Linked DNA regions of Homo sapiens: region 1 is linked to region 2. The links come from fine-mapping of genetic effects on gene expression. Tissue or cell type: pancreas. Region 2 holds a variant in brackets; the other region holds the start of a gene. All regions are shown on one strand. Distances are between the middles of the regions.

What was found. PIP is the estimated chance that this variant, and not a neighbour inherited with it, causes the effect.
Region 1: it holds the start of ACYP1, and the variant in region 2 is fine-mapped to the expression of ACYP1 in pancreas (GTEx, PIP above 0.99).

What each region holds. Positions count from the first base shown.
Region 1 is chr14:75,062,489-75,065,173 of GRCh38, reverse strand. ACYP1 (acylphosphatase 1) reads left to right here and starts at 1,150. Exons shown (of 3, transcript NM_001107.5): 1 at 1,150-1,220; 2 at 1,613-1,704. The coding sequence starts at 1,621. RefSeq lists an enhancer at 810-979.
Region 2 is chr14:75,196,058-75,198,742 of GRCh38, reverse strand. No RefSeq gene overlaps it. Among named protein-coding and RNA genes, the nearest start is that of TMED10, 21 kb to the right of the region's middle. The variant G/A (reference allele first, on the strand shown) is at 1,564.

The DNA of each region.
Region 1 (2,685 bases), 130 kb after region 2:
GGGTAGCTGGATTCAAATGTTTACACATCAACTCTAATTTTAACCATCTTCATCCACATCCCCCTTGACAATTCCCTGTTCCCAAAATAAATTCGTGTAGTTTGGCCATTTGGCTTAGATTGACTGACTCAACTGTAATTCTGGAGCCATGAGTTATTTTGCTTGTGCTCTTGCTTTATTTGTGTAGTTAGCTGGTTATTTGTTCAAGCATTATTTGACATTTTCTTAGTAAAGGAGACCGGTGAGTAGCTTCCAGAAGCCCAGAAGCAGACATAACCTCCATTGGGACCTCCTGTGCACTTATGCCCCGTAATCCCCTATTCCAGATTGTTATGACCCAAACTTTAAGGAGAACTGAATGAAAAAGGACAGAAAGGTTAAATGTATCCTACTCAACATATTTATGATGTTTATTTTTTTATTTATTAATTTATTTATTTGAGTCAGAGTCTCCCTCTGTTGCCCAGGCTGGAGTGCAGTGGGGCAATCTCGGCTCACTGCAGCCTCCACCTCCCAGGTTCAAGCGATTCTCCTGCCTCAGCCTCCCGAGTAGCTGGGATTACAGGCGCCCGCCACCATGCCCGGCCAATTTTTGTATTTTTGGTAGAAACGGGGTTTCACCATGTTGGCCAGGCTGCTCTCGAACTCCTGACCTCAAGTGATTCGCCCGTGTCGGCCTCCCAAAGTGCTGAGATTACAAGCTATTTATGATGTTTAATGTGTGCTGTTTGTCTCTCACCTCCAGAATTAAGCTCCTCAGGACAGGGATCCTGTTTTGTTCACTGATGTTTGCCTGGTCACCTAGAACAGGTGCCTGGCACACAGTAGCTGTCAGTCAGTATTTAATTGAATGATTGAATGTATCCCCATGTACTTCTTCGTCTATGCCTTTCTCCTCATGAGAAAATGAGAAGAGGGTTGCGCTTGTTGACTGAGATGCGATGAGGGCTAGGTTTGTGGAGGCCCAGCCGAGTTCCTGGACAGATCCCCAACCCAAAGCTTTTGGGTTGCCGGACAACCGCGTCCTGAAATCCCACCTTCTGGGCGGGCCCGGGCCGAGGCGCCGTCTCTGATTGGTCAGCTGGAGGTGATGGGCATGAGCGACAGCGAAGGAGCAGCTACACACTAAACTTCCGGGCGCGGAGGTTTGCGCGCCTTGGTGAGCCGTTGGCGTGGTGGTCCCGGAGTGATCCTGGCAGCCGGTGGGGAAGACAAGGAGGGTGAGCCGCCAGGGGCCCCCAGGGTGTGCTTCTCAGGTCGATTAGCCCTAAAATGTTAGTAGCAGGGGATTCTGGGAGTTAGTAGCAGGGAATTCTGGTAGTGAGGGAGCGGGACCGGGCATGGATGTAAGGAGGTCATCGGTCCTCAGGTTATTTCCCCAGAAGAGGCTTCAGCGGGCAGCTGCGATCCGAAGCTCCCTCTCCCGGCGTCTGGTTCTTCCTTCACACACACCTTATCACATCCACTCACGTTTCCATTTCCAGGACCTTGAAGTCGGGGAGAGGTCGCAATGGTTAAGGATGGACAGGGGTGGGTGTGGCCCTTTCTGACTCAGGCTTGCGGGTCCTGGAATAATAGCCCTTCACTCTTCTGCTTTCCTGGTTTCTGACAGGTTTGAGCATGGCAGAAGGAAACACCCTGATATCAGTGGATTATGAAATTTTTGGGAAGGTGCAAGGGGTGTTTTTCCGTAAGCATACTCAGGTATGTGGCCTGCAGGCTTTGGGGTGGTAACCTAGGTTGTGGGCATAGGAACAAGGGACGTGTTCTTGACAAATGTGAACTAGAAGCCGCTGGCTATTTGGTAGCTGCATGGCAAAGAGGTAGTTTGTAGAGCAATGAGTATGAAAATGCTGTGCAATCGGTAAAACATGGTGTAAATGGAAGATCACCCTGCTGTTATTATTAGTCAGTGGTGCCTGAGCATCTAGATACACATATTAATGAGCTTCTCTCTTCCAAGGGAAATAGAGGGCTTCCCCAGTGCTCGCCGTTGTGGCATCATCAAACCAAGTCAGGTTTCTTATAGAAAGGCTAACATTGATTGAAGAGCTGGCATTTAGATGACCTGATGTCATGTATATAACATATATAAATGCTTCCTCTGCAGCTGCTGCACTTTCTTCAGACCTCTTTCTCCAAGCTTCCCTCAGTTCTCCACTTAATTTCTTTCTATTCTTTTTTGGTTTTGAAAGAACATTTACCTTTTCCAGCTGACGTTTTTCTTATTAAAAACTCTTTATCCATTCCAGAATAGGTGATGGGAACACTGAATGTGGAGCCTGGTATTCTTCCTAGAGCAATAAAGGATTATTTGAGGGGATGGACAAACTGTTGGCAGCCTCTACCTCTGCTTTAATGTGGCTAATCTTCCCTCAACAGGCACACACAAATGCAAGCTCAATTTACCCTCTGCCTTCTGTAGGTATTGGCTATTGCCTTCCCAGTGTGTCGCTAATCCCACAGATAATGAGTTAGGACTGCAAAACTTCTTTTTTTTTTTTTTTTTTTTTTGTATTTTTAGTAGAGACAGGGTTTCACCATCTTGGCCAGGCTGGTCTTGAACTCCTGGCCTCGTGATCCATCCGCCTCAGCCTCCCCAAGTGCTGGGATTACAGGTGTGAGCCACCGCACCCGGCCAGGACTGCAGAACTTCTTAAGTGTCTCATTCCTGGGACTGTGGTA
Region 2 (2,685 bases):
CACAGCAGCAGCCGCCATGTCCCCAGGAGGTGAACTGCTGTCTTCTCCCACCCAGTCTACTCACATTGCCAGAGAATTTTAGAACTTCAGAGACTTTAGCATAAATAGTTTCATTCTAATTTAACCATGGGTTGTCGGGGGAGGGAGCCAGACACTAAATATAGCCAGTCTTGTATTTCTGGGGCACTCCTGGAAGCTTGAGAAGGGGGAAGGGAACTTGGTCGCCTACATTCTGGCAGGCTCTGTGCTATACAATTTACAGTCCTCGCAAAAGAGCTATGAAACAGATGTTGTTATTCTCACTTGGAGATTAGGGAACTGAGGTTCAAAGAGGTAAAGTAACTTGACCAAGGTCACACAGTTAGTCAGTGCTGAGGCCCCATGGAAACCGAGGTTGGCTTCACACCAAAGCTCATGCTCGGTCCATGGATGCATCTGTAGCTGCCCTGTGCTTCCTCTTGGTGTCTTTCCCCAGAATCTTCCTCCAACACCAGGAGTATCAGCATCCCTCTTTTCCGTGTTAGCCCATTGGAGGCCAGGAGGGTCGCTAGCCCAGATCCCGAAACCCTGTGACTCCTTGCTGGCCCATCACTCTGTTTCCTTCTCCTCACACCCACCCATGCCTTCTACCATGGCCAAGCCTCTTCCAGCCCTTTTCTCCTCTTCTCTCCCATTTTTCCTGCAAACCCAGGCCAGAGCACGAAGCAACCCTAAAATACTAAGAAATAGCCAAACATGTAGGTTTAAAGGTTGTCCATTAGCAGGGCGCAGTGGCTGACGCCTATAATTCCAGCATTTTGGGAGGCCGAGGCGGGCGGATCACCTGAGGTCAGGAATTCGAGACCAGTCTGGCCAACATGGTGAAACCCCGTCTCTACTAAAAATACAAAAATTAGCCAGACGTGGTGGTGTGTGCCTGTAGTCCTGACTACTTGGGAGGCTGAGGCAGGAGAATTGCTTGAGCCTGGGAGGCAGAGGTTGCAGTGAGCCAAGATCACGCCACTGCACTCCAGCCTGGGCGACAGGGCAAGACTCCGTCACCACATTAAAAAAAAAAAAAAAAAAAAAAAAAGGTCCATTTAGGTTGCCTGTTTTGATGTAGGAGTGAAGAAGGGAAGCCATCACTCCCCTGTGCCTTGATATGCTGATGACTGCTTTGCCTGCGTTCCTCTGATTTTGTGTGCTGACTCCTCAACACTGAGAAATTTCCCAACTCCCGCAGGCCTACAGAGATATCTCCTTCACAGGCTGTGCCCACAGGATAAGCATTTACCTAGGAAACAGACTTATCCCATAATAATCTCTTGCTGTTGCATATGGGTATATTAAAACTAACCCCCTCCTAGCACTTTGGGAGGCCAAGGTGGGAGGATTGCTTGAGTCCAGGAATTTGAGACCAGCCTGGGCAACACAGTGAGACCTCATTCCTATAAAATTTTTTTTTAATTAAAAAAACACTAACTCCTACCACCACCCACTCCCGCTAAACTAAAGGGTTATGTTTATACCCTTATGTGTATGTGTGTTATGTTCATGTGTGTTCCCCACTTACCCAACACTTCC[G/A]TTTTGAATGTGTTCTTGTTGACTAGATGATTGGCTGACCCTGTAGTATATAGGGACCCCTCAATTCATATCTGAAAGGTGGCACCACAGGGACTGTGGAATGTCCTTATCTCAGGTGCTCTGCCAGGCCCTCTAGGGATCTTAGTTAGTCCTCACAACAAACCTAGACAGCATTACTCCCATTTCACAGCTAAGGAAATTCAAGATCAGAAAGGATGTCACTTGCTCCAAGGTAAGACAGGGAGTAGAGAGCAGAAATGGGATTCCAGTCCGCGGTGCTCTGGTCCGCAAGACCCGCGGCATCTGAGACGCCTCATGTGCCTCATCTCTACCAGACTCGAGATGCCCCAAGGTGGAGACCAGGCTTGGGTTCCCCATGGGCCTTAGCACAGAGCCCTACATAGGGCAGTTGTATGGTAAATGTTTGCTCAGTAAATTGTCAGAGGAAGTTTACACTGATTACCAATTGTGTGAGAACCAGCACTGGGGAAAGAGGAAGTGTTTGCACAGTGATAAGGCCTATGTGCCTGATGGTACACCCCATGCCCTGGGCCAGTGGTGAGAGTGGGAGGTGGGCAGCAGAGGGGGGCAGTGCGAGACGCCTGCCCTAACAGGGCTAAGGGAAGAACTGTGGTGCCCAAGAGACCCTGGATATAGTGGAGGATAGGAGGGACATCCTGAGGGTTGACTGATTGCCAGCTCCCCGGCATCAAGACCTTCAGGTTCTTCCACTAGAAGGAGCAACAGAGACACAGGGGAGTGAGAGGGAGGCAGCCTCTCAATGGACACAGGGTCACCTGGGGGCTGTGGGGGAAGCCAGCCAGAGTGGCTGTGTGTGAGGAGAGGACTCTGAATGGGGATGCTGGGCCAGGCGGCATTTGGGTTTGGGAGACCCTGGGAACAGAGGTAGCATTTGAGAGAGCTTCTCAGGAAGGTGGAGGAGGAATGTGGCCTGATTCATCACCTCTGAGAAAAGGACATTTTCTCGGAAGGCCCAGACCAAGAATGCAACAGAAAGGCATAGTTTGAAGGGATCAGATAAAACTTTTTTTTTTTTTTGAGATGGCATCTCGCTCTGTCACCCAGGCTGGAGTGCAGTGGTGTGATCCCAGCTCACTGCAA